6 linked regions of the Homo sapiens genome follow. The protein of the gene in region 1 purifies or fractionates together with the protein of each later gene. This does not show direct contact. Each region holds a gene or a part of one and is shown in the gene's direction. Other genes may lie near its edges. The genes, in order: DEAF1, SP3, CDC42BPA, LMO7, MYH10 and SUB1.

Evidence for each region.
Region 2: the proteins of DEAF1 (region 1) and SP3 purify together in Homo sapiens (affinity purification with western blotting; one study listed by BioGRID). This does not show direct contact.
Region 3: the proteins of DEAF1 (region 1) and CDC42BPA purify together in Homo sapiens (affinity purification with mass spectrometry, with the first as the bait; one large-scale study listed by BioGRID). This does not show direct contact.
Region 4: the proteins of DEAF1 (region 1) and LMO7 purify together in Homo sapiens (affinity purification with mass spectrometry, with the first as the bait; one large-scale study listed by BioGRID). This does not show direct contact.
Region 5: the proteins of DEAF1 (region 1) and MYH10 purify together in Homo sapiens (affinity purification with mass spectrometry, with the first as the bait; one large-scale study listed by BioGRID). This does not show direct contact.
Region 6: the proteins of DEAF1 (region 1) and SUB1 purify together in Homo sapiens (affinity purification with western blotting, with the first as the bait; one study listed by BioGRID). This does not show direct contact.

The regions. Positions count from the first base shown.
Region 1 is NC_000011.10:646,978-650,222, reverse strand, and holds part of DEAF1 (deformed epidermal autoregulatory factor 1 homolog), read left to right. Parts: intron 1-3,245. UniProt on the Homo sapiens protein: Transcription factor that binds to sequence with multiple copies of 5'-TTC[CG]G-3' present in its own promoter and that of the HNRPA2B1 gene. Down-regulates transcription of these genes.
Region 2 is NC_000002.12:173,906,374-173,909,873, reverse strand, and holds part of SP3 (transcription factor Sp3), read left to right. Parts: 3' UTR 1-3,500. UniProt on the Homo sapiens protein: Transcriptional factor that can act as an activator or repressor depending on isoform and/or post-translational modifications. Binds to GT and GC boxes promoter elements. Competes with SP1 for the GC-box promoters.
Region 3 is NC_000001.11:227,143,993-227,147,492, reverse strand, and holds part of CDC42BPA (serine/threonine-protein kinase MRCK alpha), read left to right. Parts: coding exon 1-134; intron 135-1,755; coding exon 1,756-2,004; intron 2,005-3,500. UniProt on the Homo sapiens protein: Serine/threonine-protein kinase which is an important downstream effector of CDC42 and plays a role in the regulation of cytoskeleton reorganization and cell migration. Regulates actin cytoskeletal reorganization via phosphorylation of PPP1R12C and MYL9/MLC2.
Region 4 is NC_000013.11:75,807,330-75,810,829, forward strand, and holds part of LMO7 (LIM domain only protein 7), read left to right. Parts: intron 1-150; coding exon 151-870; intron 871-1,824; coding exon 1,825-1,854; intron 1,855-3,500.
Region 5 is NC_000017.11:8,624,226-8,627,725, reverse strand, and holds part of MYH10 (myosin-10), read left to right. Parts: intron 1-3,500. UniProt on the Homo sapiens protein: Cellular myosin that appears to play a role in cytokinesis, cell shape, and specialized functions such as secretion and capping. Involved with LARP6 in the stabilization of type I collagen mRNAs for CO1A1 and CO1A2.
Region 6 is NC_000005.10:32,595,557-32,599,056, forward strand, and holds part of SUB1 (activated RNA polymerase II transcriptional coactivator p15), read left to right. Parts: intron 1-3,404; coding exon 3,405-3,500.

The DNA.
Region 1 (3,245 bases):
TTTGTATTTTTAATAGAGACGGGTTTCACCATGTTGGCCAGGCTGGTCTCAAACTCCTGACCTCAAGAGATTCACCCGCCTCAGCCTCCCAAAGTGGTGGGATTACAGGTGTGAACCACCACACTAGTCTCTGCCTTTTGATTGGAGTGTTTAATCTACTTTTTTGTTTTGTTTTTGTTTTTGTTTTTGTTTTTGTTTTTTAGACAATCTCACTCTGTCGCCAGGCTGGAGTGCAATGGCACGATCTCAGCCCACTGCAACCTCAACGTCCCGGGTTCAAGTGATTTCCCTTCCTCAGCCTCCTGAGTAGCTGGGATTATAGGCATGAGCCACCACGTCCAACTAATTTTTGTGTTTTTAGTAGAGATGGGGTTTCTCCGTGTTGGCAAGGCTGGTCTCGAACTCCTGACCTCAGGTGATCCACTCGCCTCAGCCTCCCAAAGTTCTAAGATTACAGGTGTGAGCCACCGCACTGGAACTCGGCCTGTTTTGTTTTTTGAATTGAGACAGAGTATCACTTTGTTGCCCAGGCTGGAGTGCACTGGCGTAATCTCGGCTCACTGCAGCCTCCACCTCCTGGGTTTAAGGGATTCTCGTGCCTCATTCTCCCGAGTAACTGGGACTGCAGGAGTGTGCCATCAGACCCGGCTAATTTTTGTACTTTTAGTAGACACAGGGTTTCACCATGTTGGTCAGGCTGGTCTTGAGCTCCTGACCTCAAGTGATCCGCCCGCCTCGGCCTCCCAAACTGCTGGGATTATAGGTGTGAGCCACCACACCCAGCTGTTTTGTTTTTTTTTTTAAGTGGGGTCTCTCTCTGTCACCCAGGCCAGAGTGCAGTGGCACAATCTCAGCTCAGTGCAACCTCCGCTTCCCGGGTTCAAGCAATACTCCTCCTTCAGCCTCCCAAGTAACTGGGATTACAGGCACCCGCCACCATGCCCGTTTTTGTTGTTGTTGTTGTGTGTGTGTGTGATGGAGTCTCGCACGGTTGCCCAGGCTAGAGTGCAGTGGCGCAATCTCGGCTCACTGCAGCCTCTGCCTCCCGGGTTCAAGCGATTCTCCTGCCTCAGCCTCCCAAGTAGTTGGGATTACAGGCATGCACCACCATGCCAGGCTAATTTTTGTATTTTTCGTAGAGAGAGGGTTTTGCCATGTTGGCCAGGCTGGTCTTGAACTCCTGGGCTCAAGTAACCCTCCCACCTTGGCCTCCCAAAGTGCTGGGATTATAGGCATGAGCCACTGCGCAAAACCTAATCTCATGTTTAATGTAATTATCAATGTGAGTGGATTTGTGTTTATATTTGCAGTTTATGTTTCATGTTTTGCTCCTCTGTTCTTTCACTGCCTTCTTTTCTGTTAAATGTGTATTTTCTAGTTGTGTTTTCTAGTGTACCACTTCAATTCTTTTGTTGAACATTTTTAAACAGTATCTTTAAAGTTGTTATTTTCTTACTGCTATAGGTATTACAATATACATTTTAATTTATCTCAGTTTCAGTAGGAGGATAGAATTTCCTCAAGCAGGGAAAGTGTACTGCAGAGGCTGAGTGTATACATTCCTGGCAAACACTATTTGGGCCCCAATATAAGCACTTACTGAGCTCCTTTCACCTACAGAACGAACACATCCCGTTCTTTTAAAAGCTGCCTTCCAGCCGGACCTCCAGCCCAGGACACCCTGTCCTCAAGCCTCCCTCAGATCCTGTTCTTTAAAAAGCTGCCTTCAGCTGGGCACGGTGGCTCACGCCTGTAATCCCAGCACTTTGGGAGGCCGAGGCGGGCGGATCACGAGGTCAGGAGATCGAGACCATCCTGGCTAACATGGTGAAACCCCGTCTCTACTAAAAATACAAAAAAATTAGCTTGGCGTGGTGGTGGGCGCCTGTAGTCCCAGGTACTCGGGAGGCTGAGGCAGGAGAATGGCATGAACCCGGGAGGCGGAGCTTGCAGTGAGCCGAGATCGTGCCACAGCACTCCAGCCTGGGAGACAAAGGGAGACTCCGTCTCAAAAAAAAAAAAAAAAGGCAGTGATAATTTTAAAAATTAATTGTAGAGGACTTGGTATGTACACAAAAGTATACACGAGTTTATGCATGTTATGAAGCCCCAACAGGAATCCCCTGCTCCCAGCACCGCCTGGGTCAAGTCCACCCACCTGCTCCCAGCACCGCCTGGGTCAAGTCCACCCACCTGCTCCCAGCACCGCCTGGGTCAAGTCCACCCACCTGCTCCCAGCACCGCCTGGGTCAAGTCCACCCACCTGCTCCCAGCACCGCCTGGGTCAAGTCCACCCACCTGCTCCCAGCACCGCCTGGGTCAAGTCCACCCACCTGCTCCCAGCACCGCCTGGGTCAAGTCCACCCACCTGCTCCCAGCACCGCCTGGGTCAAGTCCACCCACCTGCTCCCAGCACTGCCTGGATTGAGTCACCTACGTGCTGTGGTGGCAACACTTTTCTTTTAATCCTTAACTTTGGAAAATGTGAGACGTGCACATGAGTTGGATCGCCCAGGAGAGGCCCGTCGCCCTCACCTGTATCAGCTGCTTTAGCGCCTGCCCTCCTGGCTTGTCCCCCTCTCTCTTTGGGCTGAGGGCTGAGCATTTTAAAGCAAGCCCCACGCATCATTATTTTCATTTGTGAGGCCTGGATCACTGTAAGTCAGATTTGGATTGTGTTTTAATTGGATTTTTAGTCACTGTTTTTATTTCATTACTTATTTTTGGTTTTTATTTGTTCGTTTGTTTTTGGTTTTGTTTCTGTTTTTGAGACAGGGTCTGGCTCTGTCACCCAGGCTGGAGTGCAGCGGCGCGATCTTGGCTCACTGCAACCTCCACTTCCCAGGTTCAAGCGATTCTCCTGCCTCAGCCTCCCTAGTAGCTGGGGATTACAGGCACCCGCCACCACGTCCGGCTAATTTTTGTATTTTTAGCAGAGACGGGGTTTCACCATGTTGTTCAGGCTGGTCTTGAACTCCTGACCTCATGATCTGCCTGCCTTGGCCTCCCAAAGTGCTGAGATTACTGGCATGAGCCACCGTACCCAGCCTATTTTAGGTTTTCTATAGACAGGGTCTCGCTTTGTCACCCAGGCTGCAGTCCAGTGGTGCCATCACGGCTCACTACAGCCTTGATCTCCTGGCTCAAGTGATCCTCCTGCCTCTGTCTCCCAAGTAGCTTGGACCACAGGCATGAGCCACCACACCCAGCTAATTTTAAAACATTTTTTTTTTTTTATAGAGATA
Region 2 (3,500 bases), on another chromosome or scaffold:
TTCTTAGATATCTTTTTATTGATGTGCAAAAATTTTTGGATTGACAGTAACTTGGTTATACATGACACTGAAATGCCTTACTTTGTATGATATTCCATAGTATATTAAAAATGGTAAAATTGCATGGGTTTTGTAGGTACTTTTGGAATCTAGAAGAAATGAAATTTTACCAAGTTATATAAAGAGAAAATTGAATTTAACAATGCGAATGGTAGTCTAACCAAATGCATCAATCCTGTGTGGTTTAGTGTAAAAATGAGAACATGTTGGTATTTATCTATTGTAAGATAAAAAAGCTGGTGGGTGAAAGAAATCATGTTATGATAAAAAATTTTGTAATTTTCTTGATGACTGGAATTTTTATTATGCATAACTGACAAATCAAGTTTCCAAGCAAATGTTACATAGTGTAGGCTTTACTTAGCTTATCAATTTGTCATTTTGAAGCTAATTATTTTAATTAGGTTAACTATGTACAATATTTTAAGCATTACTCTTGTAAGATTTTGAAAACTACATTTTAACATGGAACTCTAGGGATAGTCACCTTTTAAATCCTGTTGAAAAGCCATGTTTAAGATTTAATTTGCCAAAATAATGTCTTGTTAATATTCTTTCAATAACGAAGTTGGGCAATATAACCAATGTTTAAAAAAGTTTAAAATGTATAAGTTGAGGCATTTGGGTGGTAAGAGAATGTTATAGTGAATTATCCCTTTTCTTGACTATTGGAGGACCAAAAAAATAAGGTGTATTGCGTCTTAGCAGTGATTTTTATCCAATCTTGTTTCCAAAAACCATGTCTCCCAGGGCCTTAAAAGCCATCATGTAAATTACCAGTAAAGTGTAACATATGCAAACATAACAAAATCACTTCCATAGTGACGATACTCCAACCATATGGATATTAGTCATAGAAGAACTAGAGGTTTTATGATATTTTTTTAAGTCTTTTTTTTTTTTGTCTAGGTAGTCAGTCTGCACTTAAATATCAATCATTTTCCTTTTTTGCTTCTTCCCTTAAAATTTATATGTATCCAGTACATTTAATTGAGAAGCGTATGTTTTTTATTATGCTGTATTTTCTTTTTATTTTTTAATTATTGTTTATATTTTCAATTCAAAAATGTACAAAATAAAGTTACATTGCTGGTCTTGTAAGAGCTATACAGTTTTCCTAAATGTATACCTGTAACTGCAGCAGTTCACCTATTTCAAAAATTTGGAATTCTGTTCATTTGTTATTCTTAAGACCACCTCAAATTTAAAGGCTACCTTATTGTACGTTTAAAGTGTATTATAACAGTGTGGTAGTTAATAAAACACTATTTTTTTTTCTTTTGAGTTTGTTGTATTCCTATGCATAAAAAATATTGCAGTGGTATGGGGTAAGAATTGGTGGTTTATTTTTCTTCAACTTGGCTTTTTATTTTTAGATTCTTGATTTTAGACACTGAATTGTAAACAGGCATTTATTTGAAGAAGAGATATATAGAGACACTGGTCATTTACTAATTTTTTACCTAGAGTAAATAAGAATGAGCTTATTAAATAAAATTTTTGAAAAAAAGTCTTAGCCCTTAGCCCACATTGATTCATATCAGTTTTATCAGTACCATTTTGCAATTTTTTTGTTTTCCGTTTTAAAGCAATGCAGAATATTTTGATTTATCGAAAACCTGAATTTACATTAAGACTCCTGAAAATGATAAGACAAGCGTTGGTAACCATGGCAGGAGTTACTTGAAAAAGTTGCCTTTGAATTTGCATGTGTTTCATCATTATAAAGGCAGAGTAGGAGGAAAGAGTATTAATGTGATTGTGTATTGTAGATGTTTTAAAGTAAAAATCAAGTTTCTTAACACATGTATACAGTGGGGGTAAAGATGTCCATTTTCTGTTTTCCAGGCCCAGTCTGACTCTGTCTGTAATACCTGATTGCATTGGAGAACTCTAGACACGCATAAACATGGACAGTTTTTCTAAATGTGAGACTTAAGCCTGTGATGTAAAATAGGAAGTTCTACTTGGAATAATATAAAGGAACCACTAGAATTTACAATTATTTTGAAGTTACAGGGATTAGATTTTGAATCTTAAAATCCTTTAGGTAATTTTTAGAATTTTTAAATTAAGATTAATGTGAAGAGAATTAAGTGAGCAGCAGGTGGTTCACTTGAGCAAACTGCCCATTAAGTCAGATTAAACCATTTGAATGATAGTAGAGATGTTTTAAGTAATACTGGATTTTTACAGTAAGTTTATGGTGTACTTTGAATCGATAGGTGTCCATGCATATTTTATGAATTCGTGGAGAATGAATGCAATGAAGAAAGTAAGTAGTCTTGAAAATTATTTAAATAAAGTTGTAGATTTTTTTAGTGCCCCCTAGGAATATATTAGTGAACTTTGGAACTTTTACCAAAGTTATGTAACCTCAGTGTAGATAATTTTAAATATTTCTATTTTTATATTTTAAAATGTTGAATATACTCTGGAAACAACATTTGAAGATTTGCTCTGATGTCAACTTTTTCTGGTTATAAAACCTATTAGTATTGTGTATAATTCTCAGGGTAGGTATACTCTAATAGGTGTTTTGTCAATTGCTTTATTTTTGTAAAGGCTAGAGTTAGTGCATATTGAATATATTTATGTACAAATAATTCCTGTTGTAACATTTAGTGGACGCGATTATCTGTATACCTCAAATTTTAATTTAAGAAAGTATCACTTAAAGAGCATCTCATTTTCTATAGATTGAGGCTTAATTACTGAAAAGTGACTCAACCAAAAAGCACATAACCTTTTAAAGGAGCTACACCTACCGCAGAAAGTCAGATGCCCTGTAAATAACTTTGGTCTTTCAAAATAGTGGCAATGCTTAAGATACTTAAAAATACACATACATATAAGCTGAAAGCATGTCAAGCCTATTTCATAGAAAATAGTTCTTAAACAGTATTGTTCATTAGAAATTGCTGGGGAGCATTTTAGAGATTCCATAGGCCTGGTAGCCACCTCAGCTTACTAAATCAACATCTCTGGAGATGGAGTGTATATGTGTTTTGAAACAGCTGCTCAAGTGGTTCTGTTAAACACTCCTGCGTTACAATCACTTAAAATAGAGCAAGCATCCCCTTAGGCTCTTAATTGTAGTTTAAATTCCAGTACTGCCTACTCAGACCCAAAAGTTTTGTTTTATGAAAAATTTGTATTGTGTTCAATATTGTTTGAAATTTGGGGTTGTTGCATAAATGATTATGGAATAACATTTGGTTTTAAAATAATATAAACTGACATGTTATGCTACCTGTTACACAATTTGGTTTTCAGTTTTAATTATATGAAGCTGGTAACAATCGTTTTTGTTGTAAAAGAATTATTTTTCACTAAACAGTATGTTTAAAACTGACTGCCATGAATGAGTACTAAGTCTTTTGTTGTCTGACAATAAGCACAAAACAAATTAATTGATATCTTTGGTACAAATTTGATAT
Region 3 (3,500 bases), on another chromosome or scaffold:
ATGGAAAAGGGAGATATGGACCTGAATGTGACTGGTGGTCTTTGGGGGTCTGTATGTATGAAATGCTTTACGGAGAAACACCATTTTATGCAGAATCGCTGGTGGAGACATACGGAAAAATCATGAACCACAAAGTTAGTATGTTTTACTTTTGTTCAAATTAATGTGGTAAATAACACATATAATAAAACCATTTTTAAAGAGAAAATATTTTTCTAAAAACAGTGAACAATCACATTTCTATCCTAGTATGGGACAGGACAACATAAATAGTCAAAATCCATAAATTATTCATAAGTTATTAGTTCTAATTTTCTTGTATTTTATTAGAGATGCCGCTAAGTAGGAAATTAAGTGGTCTCCCCAGTAGAATAACAAAGGTCGTAAGTAGAGAATTTAGATCATTGCTTACTATAGTATATGTATAATCATGACTAGAATATGTGTAAAAAAATTTTCAACTTTAGTGGTAATAAGTGCAATACAAATTTAAAATAAGGATGAGATACTTTTTTTTCTTGTCAAATTAGCAAAGATCAAAAGAAAAATAGTACTCTGTACCATAAATAATGCAGTGAGATGGGCATTCTAAGACATTAATAGGAATATAAATTGGTGTAACCTTTCTGTTCAGGAAGTTTACAGGTGTGCACCTAGAGCCTTAAAAAATGGTTAGAGGTTTTGATTGAGCAACTTCAGTCTAGGAATCTACCCTATGACATTCTCAGTAGAACAAAGATATATGTACAAGGATACCTATTCTAACGTTATTTATGATCACAGAACACTAGAAGCAACACAGACACACAACAAGAACAAATTAATGAAACGTTAATATATTTAGTACTAAGTGAAATAGACTGTTCATAATAATAAGAAGAAAGGTTTTATTAGCAGTCTTAGAAGATTGTGAGCAGTTGCAAATACTTAGAATATGAATATCCGATAGAAGGGAATGATAATCTATTCTTTTTAATTTGTTCTAGTGAAGCAATTATGATTAGTTGCTTTACATGTATAAAAATCAGTTTTATAGGGTTTATATTCTTCTTCCTGTTTGCAAAGATAATGTTTCATATAGTTATAAAGAGTTGAAAGACTGGAAATAGCAGCAGGGTTGTAAATAGCATGTACATCATTTGAATTAGAAAAAAATATTGTAGTATATATTTAACAGCACAGATTACAGCTTCAGTTCAAATTCTGGTTCTGCCACTTCCTAGATGTGTAATGTTGAGAAAGTTACTTGAATTCTGTGTGTCTTTATTTCTTCTATAATATTAGCATAGTAGGAGTACCCACCTAAAATGACTGTTTTGAGGGTTAAATGAGTAACGTACTTTAAATAGTGTCAGATACATATTATGTCCTTTAAAAATATTTATTATTAGTTAATCATTAGTATGTAACTTATATGACCATTATCAATCATCTATCTTGATTTAAATAGAGTCAAATTCCACTACTTTGAAGTAATTTCTCTTCATTCTGATAGCAGTTTAAGATATCTAAGGTACAATGTATTCTTCTTTCTATAGCGCATGCATGATTGAGTCATATATGAAATTAAAAGTCCTAGGAAAATGATCTTCTGTCATTCATCCCTGTATTCCTTTAGTATTAGTACTTTGCACCAACATGCAGTTATTAGATATATTTAAAATAAAATGTATTTTTAAGAAAATAAATAAGTCAACCAACTACTTAGTATGTTAAACACTGATTTATATTTTGTTTCTGTTTTTCTCTGTTTAGGAGAGGTTTCAGTTTCCAGCCCAAGTGACTGATGTGTCTGAAAATGCTAAGGATCTTATTCGAAGGCTCATTTGTAGCAGAGAACATCGACTTGGTCAAAATGGAATAGAAGACTTTAAGAAACACCCATTTTTCAGTGGAATTGATTGGGATAATATTCGGAACTGTGAAGCACCTTATATTCCAGAAGTTAGTAGCCCAACAGATACATCGAATTTTGATGTAGATGATGATTGTTTAAAAAATTCTGTAAGTATGACACTGTGAAGAAGTTCTGTCCCTCTGTTTCTTTCTACTATGGTTATATAGTAATTTTTTGGTTTATAAGTATTTTGCTAGGATGATTTTACAATGATCAGTTATTAGTCAGTGATCATGGCTTCTGGTGCTTATTCTGTCACAAATCAAATTAAGAAGAAAGTTAACTGAGGTGAACATAGTTATTTGTGACTAAGAACAAAATTAAAATTCAAAGTTTTACCTCTTAGATAAGTTATGCCATTAAGCTTCGTAAGAGAACAAATTAGATATTTAAAAAAGCAGATTTTATGATTGTAAAGTGCAGAGGTTGGCAAATTTCTCCCTAAAACCATAAAACTGGACAAAATTATCAAAATCAACCATGTCAGGGCCTGATACAACAATTGAAGAGAAATAAATTGAGAAGCATTTATTTGTGAAAAACTGCTGAACTTTAGTTTAAAGTCACATATACCACACACGTCCATCCCCACTACTGACTTGGTCTGGGACAGTAGTACTAGTAGCATGGAACTGGATAGAAAAATCAGCAGCTTTGCTGATACAGAGGGCAGATTCCAGGACTAAATACCCAAGCCCAGTGTGTTGCTGCTAACAATAGCAAACTTGGTAGGAAATCAATAGGGAAAATAGTCCACAGACGTGGTATAGCTCTGAGGTATAGCCCTGCCTGAGGTGAATACAGACCTCAAGCCAATTATTCGGCCAGTCCAATAGCCAAATAATTCAACCATTCTTAACTTGTGAGCCATGCCAAAACAGGCCAACATAGTATATTGACCTCTGCTATAACCCTTTAGGTTATATGAGATTAAAATTTAGGAAAATAAGAACTTAAAATTTTTGAGTTTTTTGCCTTTTTAGCCTTCCTCTTTTTTTTTTTTTTTTTTTTTTTTTTTTTTGAGACAGAGTCTCGCTCTGTCTCCCAGGCTGGAGTGCTGTGGCACAATCTCGGCTCATTGCAAGCTCCGCCTTCCGGGTTCACGCCGTTCTCCTGCCTCAGCCTCCTGAGTAGCTGGAACTGTAGGCGTGCGCCACCACACCTGGCTAACTTTTATGTTTTTAGTAGAGACGGGGTTTCACCGTGTTAGCCAGAATGGTCTTGATCTCCTGACCTTGTGATCCGCCCTCCTCAGCCTCCCAAAGTGCTGGGATTATAGGCATGAGCCACTGCTCCCGGCCCCTTTTTAGCCTTCTTAATTTGAGCTTTTATTTTTATTCAGTTATTTTATTTACTATGGCTTTAATCCTGTACTAAAAATTTTTATGTTAATGTTATATGACTTAACAAAATCTTTATTTTTAATTTTTGTGGGTACATAATCGGTACACGTTATATAACTTTTCACTGAAACAGTGAATACTATTTCAATACAATAAGCTGTGATCACTGTTTGATAACTGATAATTGTAAAACCATCCTAGTACTGTATTCAAGGCAGATAAAAATTTCTCATACTTTCCTGTCTAAACTTCACAAAGAA
Region 4 (3,500 bases), on another chromosome or scaffold:
CAAGAGTCCCCACAATGGTCCTCTAAAATGATTTACCCTCAGTAACTGGCTAGTTGGTCTGCTAATCACCTTTGGCTAGTCGATCTGCTAATTACCTTTTCTCCCTAAGCTTAATAAGATTCTCTTTCCTTTTTCCTCTCTGTGCATCAGTCAGTTTTTACTGCTTCAGGCCCTCCAAACATACTCTGATGACATCTTGTCTTCTGAAACACATACCAAAATTGATCCCACTTCTGGCCCAAGGCTCATAACCCGCAGGAAGAATCTCTCTTATGCACCAGGCTATAGAAGAGATGACCTCGAGATGGCAGCCCTGGATCCTGACTTAGAGAATGATGATTTCTTTGTCAGAAAGACTGGGGCTTTCCATGCAAATCCATATGTTCTCCGAGCTTTTGAAGACTTTAGAAAGTTCTCTGAGCAAGATGATTCTGTAGAGCGAGATATAATTTTACAGTGTAGAGAAGGTGAACTTGTACTTCCGGATTTGGAAAAAGATGATATGATTGTTCGCCGAATTCCAGCACAGAAGAAAGAAGTGCCGCTGTCTGGGGCCCCAGATAGATACCACCCAGTCCCTTTTCCCGAACCCTGGACTCTTCCTCCAGAAATTCAAGCAAAATTTCTCTGTGTACTTGAAAGGACATGCCCATCCAAAGAAAAAAGTAATAGCTGTAGAATATTAGTTCCTTCATATCGGCAGAAGAAAGATGACATGCTGACACGTAAGATTCAGTCCTGGAAACTGGGAACTACCGTGCCTCCCATCAGTTTCACCCCTGGCCCCTGCAGTGAGGCTGACTTGAAGAGATGGGAGGCCATCCGGGAGGCCAGCAGACTTAGGCACAAGAAAAGGCTGATGGTGGAGAGGTCAGAGTGTGTTTCTGCAAGGATTTTGCTTGTAATGGATGGTCTTGTGTAACTTTTCTCATGCGAGAAAGCAGCTCATCGTGTTGCTCAACTCTGCATGTCGCGTGCCATTTTGAAGCATCCCGTAAAATTTAATTTGCTTTGAAAAACCCTCAGTCGTTTTGTACAAAAAGTGCAATTCCATATTTGCATATCTCTAAATAACTTATTTAGGCCTGTTTAAGACTGTATATACATAAACCTTGCCTTTGACTTAAGCAGTACTGTGGTACTATCCACCAATATGAAGTTTCTGGACTTCTCATGTTCAGGCATTTTTGTAACAGTCTGGTTATAGTTTGGTTTTATGTGTTGCTCACATTTTAGAGTGTCTGATTTTTTTGGGGGGGTGAAATTTTCCCTTAAAATATGGCATTGCAAATTTCATTTAACTTAATTTTTGGTTTTGGCCTAGGTTTCTTGGACTATCATTTGTAACTTATTTTTATTTATGAAGTTCAGAGTAAACGTTGATGTTAAAATGCATGAATGGTATTTGTTGTCTGCTGAATTTTATGTGTATGTAATCATGGCCATTTTGATAGTTTGTATTATGCAACTTGCCTTTTTGATGAATGTTCAGTTTGTGGAACTTAGAGATGGACAAATCTGATTAGGTTGAATAAAATTAGAGGATCCAAATCTAACTTAACAGTTCCTGACAATGGGAAGCCTTTTCATATGGATTTGTTAGCTCAGAGTAAATTGAGGAAATTCTTCATTTTGCTTAATCTGAATTTCCTGAGATAGGAAATTGATGAGAACTTGAGACATGATCAAGAATGTGATGGAAGAAGTGACCTTTTGAGATTTGTCCGTCTCCAGTTAGATTCTTAAGTGGAAGACATTGAACGTTTAGAAACTAATATGACTGGGAAAAATGACTTTTTAATTTTTGGTTTTCTGGTTTCTTAGACTCTTTCAAAAGATTTATGGTGAGAATGGGTAAGTTGTGTGGTTCACAGTAAAAAATCTGTGCGTGTTGTTTGTTCTTTGTATAACTTACTGTATTTCTGGCATGGCATGTCACTAAATGGGGTTGTTGTGTGCTGTGCATGATATTTTTTAAGTGGGAAATGTTTATCTTGCAACCTAATGGTAATATTTCTGTGTCTTGGTGCCCAGTGCAAGATAAAATTATTTGTTTTATTAAAAATTTAAACTTCAGCTTCATCCCTTCTTTTTTCCTTTTTAAAAATTTAATGAGTTGATTAAAAGTCACAAAAGCACTTGCCTAAGATTAGGTATATGTATTTTGGTATTTGGTTGCTACATAGACTAAAATTCTGATTTATGGATGCTAAAGCCCAAATTACTACATTTTAGAAAATCTGTGATGGAAAAAGAATATTAGCATTTACTTCAAGTTTAGAATACACCCAGTTGACATTATCCTATAATCGGCCAACTGGGAGCTTCGTTAGTAGGGATGCATTAAACTTCCCTAGGTGGTATTTGGAAGTATTATATTTTCAAGATTCCTGATTAGGAAAAAAAAGTTATAACATGGCTATATTTATAGTGCAAAATAGACCTTCAAAAACTGCAAAAATATTTTTAATTTCTAATATCACTGTTGCAAAAACTACATTTTTTTTTTTTTTTTTTTTTGAGATGGAGTCTCGCTCTGTCGCCCAGGCTGGAGTGAAGTGGCGCAATCTTGGCTCACAGCAACTTCCACCTCCCAGGTTCAAGCAATTCTCCTGTCTCAGCCTCCTGAGTAGCTGGGACTACAGTTGCATGCCACCACACTCTGCTAATTTTTGTATTTTTAGTAGAGACGGGGTTTCACCAGATTGGTCCGGCTGGTCTCAAACTCCTGACCTCAGGTGGTCCATCCACCTCAGCCTCCCAAAGTGCTGGGATTACAGGCAAAAACTACATTTACAGTAAATCATTTATTCATTCTTAGTACAAAATCACAAGGTGGCTATATCTTAATATTTTCCACCAAACTTTCTGTAACTTTGTGAATCTAAGGGCTAATAGTGTTTGAGCAAGAGGAAGAGAGTTAAAGGATGACAGATGTTTTAATCTGCTCAAGCCTCAGTAGCTAAGTATCTTCCCTTATGAGGATTTACTTCATCTATAAGAATCTCTAGTTTTGATAGCTTTTTATAACTTTGATAATTCAGAAATGTTGGAAGCTACTAAATGTAAAGCAGTATAACCATTCTAGATGCCAAAGGTGTAACTGAGCCACAGGCAACAAATTGCAAGTACTTGTTAGCCACTGATTTTAAAAACCAGGGTCCCTGCATGCTTTCCGTGTGCCATGCAAAGGCACATTATCCGCTTTCCAGCTCATCTGCATGATGCTTAAACATTTGCTACTCTCAAGTCATAGGAAAGCTGTTTTAACTTGATTAAAAATCTCTTTGCAGCTTTAAGCATGTTGAATTGTAACTTTCAGAAAAATTTTCATTTGTAAATTAAATATAACTTTATAATGTAAGCAGCTCTCAGAAATAGTTGCTTTTCTTAAAGGAAATAAAAGTACCCAGAGTACAAGTATGTGGTGGAAATGTCAACATGTACAACCATTTCAGTGGCTGGATGTGTTCCCTGTAGTGAGGGGTAAATTATATGAC
Region 5 (3,500 bases), on another chromosome or scaffold:
TCCTGCAAAGCAAATCACTGGTGAGTGGTACACTGTTAAACACCAGTATTATCCAGATTGGGTACCAATGTATTATGGAGTGAAATAAATGTATTTGACAATTACAAGTGAAGAATTAAACTGAACAAAATATCTCCAATGGTCTCATGAACTCTATCAGGTAAACAATAATATGAACACTTAACAGCTGCAAAGCCCTCTGGTACAACGCAGGGTAGGGTAAGAAGAAAGTCAGGAGAACAGTACAAAATGTTAGGAGAAGGAAAAGGATTAAATTGCCACATTGACCTGAAAAGAACTTCTGAAAGGATGGCATTTGGGTCAGGAGTTGAAGGAATAATAGCTTTTTGGTTGTGGAGAAGTTGAATTTCACTATGAGGGTTGGGACCATTCACGTAAATATTGATCAATAGGTACAGATCCCCTGTTATATACCAGGGACTAGACAAAATGCTCAAGATACAGCGTGGAACAGATGACTCTCCTCATAGTGTTTAGTTGTAGAAGAGACTGAAAAGGTGAAAGTCATTGGTAATCCTACTACCCAGTAAAGACCCAATGAATATTTGTTCCGTTTAAAAAAAAAATACACACGTGTATGTAGTTTTCCCCACAAAATTGGGAACATGCTGTGTAATTACACTTTTGTGTTCTACTGGGTTTTTTAAAATACTAAATTACAAGCATTTCCCCATCTAGAAAAAGTACTGATAATATGTAAGATGTCCCAATTTGATAAAATAATTTTAAGATATATAATCTACTGCTTCTAGACCTGTTCTAGAAGTTATTTGTTAAATTATTCTAATTTATAGTCACCTGCTAAATTTAAGCATCTAATTACATGTCCAGTGTAAAATTTAAGAAGTGTGTGCGTGTCTACTGACAGCAAGACAGTTTCCTAAGTGCTCTGTAGGATATGCAGTTTACACCTGATAAGAATAGTAAGAGAAACTTGTCATATTTTGTTATAGTTGAATATTTTCTTTTAATAGATTCTACCCTTCTGAAAGGTGGAGTGTGTATCCTATTATTTGTTCTCAAATTTACCTGTGATGTTTCCCACCTTGAAGCCATGCCTCCTTTCTTCTTTTTTTTTAAATTTTTTATTTTACTTATTATTATTATTATTATTATTATTATTATTTATTATTATTTTGAGACAGAGTCTCATTCTGTTGCCGAGGCTGGAGTGCAGTGGTGTGATTTCAGCTCACTACAACCTCTGCCTCCTGGGCTCAAGTGATCTTCCTGCCTCATCCTCCTGAAGAACTGGGACTGCAGGCCTGTGACACCAAGCCCAGCTAATTTTTTGTATTTTTTGTAGAGACGGGGTTTCGCTATGTTGCCCAGGCTGGTCTTGAACACCTGGACTCGAGCAATCTACCTGCCTCGCCCTCCCAAAGCGCTGGGATTACAGGCGTGAGCCACCCCACCTGGCCTCCTTTCTTTTTACCAGTGTGCAACGTTTAAGTTGGAAAGAGACAACTTGTTAATAGTGTTATTAGACCAGTCCCTAGAGGCTTTTAAAACTGTTATGCAGAATGTACATGTATCTATGAATGTTTTCTGTATTGCCCTCTCCAAAGAGGATGTCTTAGAAGACTAATGCAAGTTTAGGTATAAAATGTGTTAGCAATTTTATTTGTATAGAAGTTTTAATAACATTAATCACATGTTGTGTGATTTTTTGTTTCATCTTATTTTGCGGTTTTTGTTTTATCCAAGTCTATAACCTTTAAGACATCAACATGTTATTTAAATTGTTATGAATTAGTCTAGAATTTGGTTTTCAACCTCTTTTTCTACTCTAACATACCTGCTGGTAGCAGTGGCGCACCATGGCAACCACAGAACTTTGGAGCAATGGTTGTCAAATGTGTCCCAGGACCAGCAGTGGCAGCAGCATCTGGGAACTTGTTAGAAATGCAAATTCTGAGGCTCAGGCTGGACGCGGTGGCTCACGCTTGTAATCCCAGCACTTTGGGAGGCCGAGGCAGGTGGATCACCTGAGGTGAGGAGTTCAAGACCAGCCTGACCAACATGGTGAAACCCCATCTCTATTAAAAATACAAAAATTAGCGGGTCATGGTGCAGGCCTGCCTGTAATCCCAGCTACTTGGGAGGCTGAGGCAAGAGAATCACTTGAACCCTGGAGGCAGAGGTTGCAGTGAGCTGAGATTGCGTCCACTGCACTCCAGCCTGGGCAACAGGGTGAAACTCTGTCTCAAAAAAAAAAAAAATAGTTCTCAGGCTCTACCCTATACCTACTGAATCAGGGACTCTGGGATAGAGCCCAGCAATCTGTATTTTAATAAACCCTCTAGGTGCTGCAAATGCATGCCTGAATTTGACAGCCGCTACTATAGAAGATGAGTGTTTGTAACGCATTACATTGCAACAAGTAATTTCTGAAGAATCTTAGCTATTTGGTTCTAGTAAATTATTTTTTTAAATTTATTTTTGTTTGTTTTTGAGACGGAGTCTTGCTCTGTCACCCAGCCTGGAGTGCAGTGGCACGATCTCAGCTCACTGCAACCTCCGCCTCTCAGGTTCAAGCAATTCTCCTGCCTCAGCCTCCTGAGTGGCTGGGATTACAGGCACCCACCACCACGCCTGGCTAATTTTTTGTTATTTTTGGTGGAGATGGGGTTTCACCATGTTGGCCAGGCTGGTCTCGAACTTCTGACCTCAGGTGATCCACCCATCTCGGCCTCCCAAAGTGCTAGGATTATAGGCATGAGCTACTGCACCCAGCTGGTTCTAGTAAATTATTAGTAGTAGTTAAAGGGCTAGATATGCACCAACACGCCTGGCTAATTTTTAAATTTTTCTGTAGAGGCGGGATCTTGCTATGTTGCCCAGGCTGGTCTCAAATATTTGGCTTCAAGCACTCCTCCCACCTTAGCCCCTCAAGTTGCTGAGATAACAGTTATGGGCCATTGTGCCCAGAAGTTGGTTGAATGTGTAACCACTATCAGTGATTAATCTTTTAGGATACAGATAGAGCCCTTTAGAATCTAGAGAACGTTATAGCACATATATACACACGCTAAGTGCATAATATTTTTATACCATTTCAGGGATTTTGTTGAAGTTGAGATTAGCTGATGGACTCAAGAACCTCTTAACAACCTTAGACTACTTTATGATTTCCTCTTGCCTACAAAGAACCTCTAGCATTTTTGGCTAGGGGAGTGGAGTGAACAGAGGGGAGAAGTGGGGATTTGATAGAGCAAGAGTAGGTACTCAGTTGGCTTCTTCTGTTGGTTTGAATGAAGTGATGGAAGCCATGCCTATGAAATTTATAATAACCTGGAATTTGGAGTAGCAGCAAAAATGTTTAAGTTGGTATCAAATCCCAAAAAGATCCTGTCAGGCAATCATGATGAGTCACATTAGAAAGATGATGGATGTAAAATCCTGCCATTTGGTCCAGAAAGCCAGTGCACAAGTAGAGGAGGGGACATAGCTTAGCCACAAAGTGATGGAGCTTCCTC
Region 6 (3,500 bases), on another chromosome or scaffold:
CACCTTGGGTGGACATTGGGATTGTATCAAGTCTTGGGCTATTAGGAATACAACTGCTGTGAATATTCTTGTACAAGTCATTTTGTGGACATTTTTTCCCTTTTGGGTAAATACCAGATACATTTGCTGAGTCGTAGGGTAAATGTGTAACTGTATAAGACACTGTCAAACCATTTTCCATAGTAGCTGTAGCATTTTACACAGCCATCGGTACTACTTAGGAGATTCCAGTTGCTCCACATCCTCGCTAGATATTGTCAGTCTTTTAAGTTTTTTTCTTTTTAGTTACATTGAATGTATAATGGTAGCTCATGGTGGTTTTACTTTCCATTTCCCTCATGTACATGTCTTAATTCATTGTACATCTTTAGTGTGTTTATTGGTTATTTTTATATCTTTTGTGAAGAGTATCTTTTGGCCACTTAAAATGCCAGGTCATTTGAGTTGTAACACTTTATATATTTTGTCAGATGTAAGTATAATTAATATTTTTTTTAGACTTCAGGGAAACTTTAGTTTTCAAAGCAATCTAGTTCAAAAATGAGTGGAGGTTAACAGAGAGGAAAATATGAAACCAGAGAGAATCAAACAGACAGAATAAGGGGGGACTGGCAGTTGGTCAGGGGCGTCTGTGACAGATCTTCTCTCTCTTGGAAATGAGGTCCTCACGGATTCTGGTCAGTTCATCATTTTCTTCACGTCCACGGTTCTGCTTCTTCCTCAGGCTCTCCTCGAAGGCCAAGACCCCTGTGGCTCCAACTTGAGTGAATATTTTCTTTAGGTTTCTGGTTTACCTTTTTATTTTCTGAAGCATCTTTTTAAAAAAGGCTTTAGTGTGATTGTCTATTCTATCGATTTTTCTCCTTTTTTGCTTAATGCTTATTTTCTGTCCAAGACGTATTTTGCCTACCATGGCCACAAAAATTTTTGCCAGTGTTTTTTCCTAGAAGTTTTATAGTTTTAGTTTTCACATTTAGGTCTATAATTCATGTAGAATTAATTTCTCTGTGTATGATGTAAGATAGAGATTTAGAGTCTTCCCCACCCCAAATGCAGATAGCCTGTTGTTTCAACACCATTTGTTGAAAAGAGTATTCTTATTCCTTTGAATTACCTTGGATTTTACCCCCTCCCCCCAAAAAAATCAGTGAATATATCCAATGCGTGTGTATTTTTTGACTCCGTTGTGTTCCACTGACCTCTTATGTCTGTCTTTACTCCAGTACTGCATTGTCTTCCCTTACTATATTATAGTGAGTCTTGGAAAGTGCTAAGAGACACTTTGTTGAGGAAAGCCTGTTCTTTTCTCTGGAATTTGTAATTTGTGGTAAGCAGATATATAAGATTTTTGAAAAATAATTTTCTGTGAATATTTTTAAGTTCTCAATCTGACTGTGAGTGAGGTGCATTAAAGATGTTATTTGAAGTGAACATGAAAAGGAAAAACTTGGTTGTTATTGACTGGAACTCTGGATTCGTATATTCAGAATGGTTGGTGAAGCAGTGTAGCTAGTTGCATCTGTGGATTCCTCTTGGTTGTAGTTTGTACTGCAAAATATTGCTTCCTAATGATTTTTTTTTTTGCTGGTAAAAACCATAAAAGTATATTCACATTGTTGTGAAACAGATTGCCGAAACTGTTTCATCTTGCAAAACTGAACCTCTGTGGCCATTAAACAACAGTTCCCCTTCTCCCAGCCCTGGTAACCACCATTCTACTTTTTGTTCCTGTGAACTTGACATCATGTAAGTGGAATCATAAAGTATTACCTTTTTCCTTTTTATGACTGGCTTATTTCATTGACGTAGTATGTAACAGGATTTCCTTTTTTAAAAGCTAATTGATATTCCATTGTGTGTCTATTCCACCCCCCCTCTCCCATTTTGTTTATCAGTTCATCTCTGGGTGGATATTTGTGTTGTTTCCACTTCTTGGCTCTTGTGAATAATGCTGCTATGAACATGGGTGTGCAGATGTCTCTTGGAGTCTGTGCTTTCAATTTTTTGGGATATATATTCAGAAGTAGGATTGCTGGATCATATGATAGTTTAAACAGCAATTTCCTTTGGTTGCAGTTTTGATACTGAGAGTAGTACAGTTGACCCTTGAACAATGCAGGGTCAAAATGCAAGGCACCAACCCCTGTGCAGTTGAAAATCTGGTTATAACTTTTGACTTTGTCAAAACTGCTAAGTATAGCCTACTGTTGACTGGTAGCCTTAACAGTAACATAAACAGTTAACATATATTTGTATGTTATATGTATTATATACTGTATTCTTACAATAAAGTAAGCTAGAGAAAAGAAAATATTACTAAGAAAATCATAAGGGAGAAAAATTACATTTTACTGTACTGTATGGTGTTTATCAATAACATTAGTTTACGTTGTCTGTTTATAAGATATGTCATCTGTTAATAAAATATGTCATCTGTTAGAAATTGTAGGCAACCACAGCTGCAGATTTCAGTCCGTGGTACATATCAAGCAATTCAACTTTTTTATTTTTATTTTTATTTTTATTTTTTTGCATTTTAAAATTAAAGACAGGATCTTGCTGTGTTGCCCAGATTGGATTCAAGCTCCTGGGCTCAAGTGATCCTCCGGCCTCAGCCTCCTGAGTAGCTGGGATCATAGGCATGCACCACTGCTTCTGGCAGTTTTTTTCTTGTGATGTCATGCCTTCTCTCTGCTTCTTGGGAGCACTTTCAGCATCACTAGGGGCACTTTGTATAGGACTCATGGTGTTATTTAAAGTTTATGGTATTGCAGTAATCATGATGAAAAATAATGTGAAAACCGTGAGAGATCACTTTTTACTGCAATACGCAATTTGTTGGAGACATGAACTGCTCAGCAGAGATGATTAGCATCACATGGTGTTTTACACAAGGTGTTTTAAGCAGATACTTGTAACATTTGAGTACACTGAGATAACAGGAAGTGGCTATGAAGTTAACACTAGTACACTACTGTAGTTAATTTTATGCAGTTATGAATTAATACTCCATCTTTGTTTACATTTCTCTCTAACTTCATATAATAGATTTGTATGTTTTATGATAGTAAGTGATAAAATAACCTCATATCTAGGTATGTTTTATGCATTCATGACATACCTAACTTTTTCTTAATGTTTTCGTTATTTCTAGGCTATGCAGTTGTTCTGTGAGTTTTTTCAAATTGTCAAGTCTGCAAAAATTTTTCCAGTATATTTATTGAAAAAAATATGCATATAAGTGGGACCTGCACAGTTCAGAGCCATGTTGTTCAAGGGTCAGCAGTAGTCATTTTCATGATTAGATGTAGAGTGAGCATGCAGCAAGTTGTGAATATGAATACAATTGAAACAGATACCACTCTTGAAAGGAGCACCTCTTTTTATGTTTGTTTCTTTTGCAGATTGGGAAAATGAGGTACGTTAGTGTTCGCGATTTTAAAGGCAAAGTGCTAATTGATATTAGAGAATATTGGATGGATCCTGAAGGTGAAATGAAA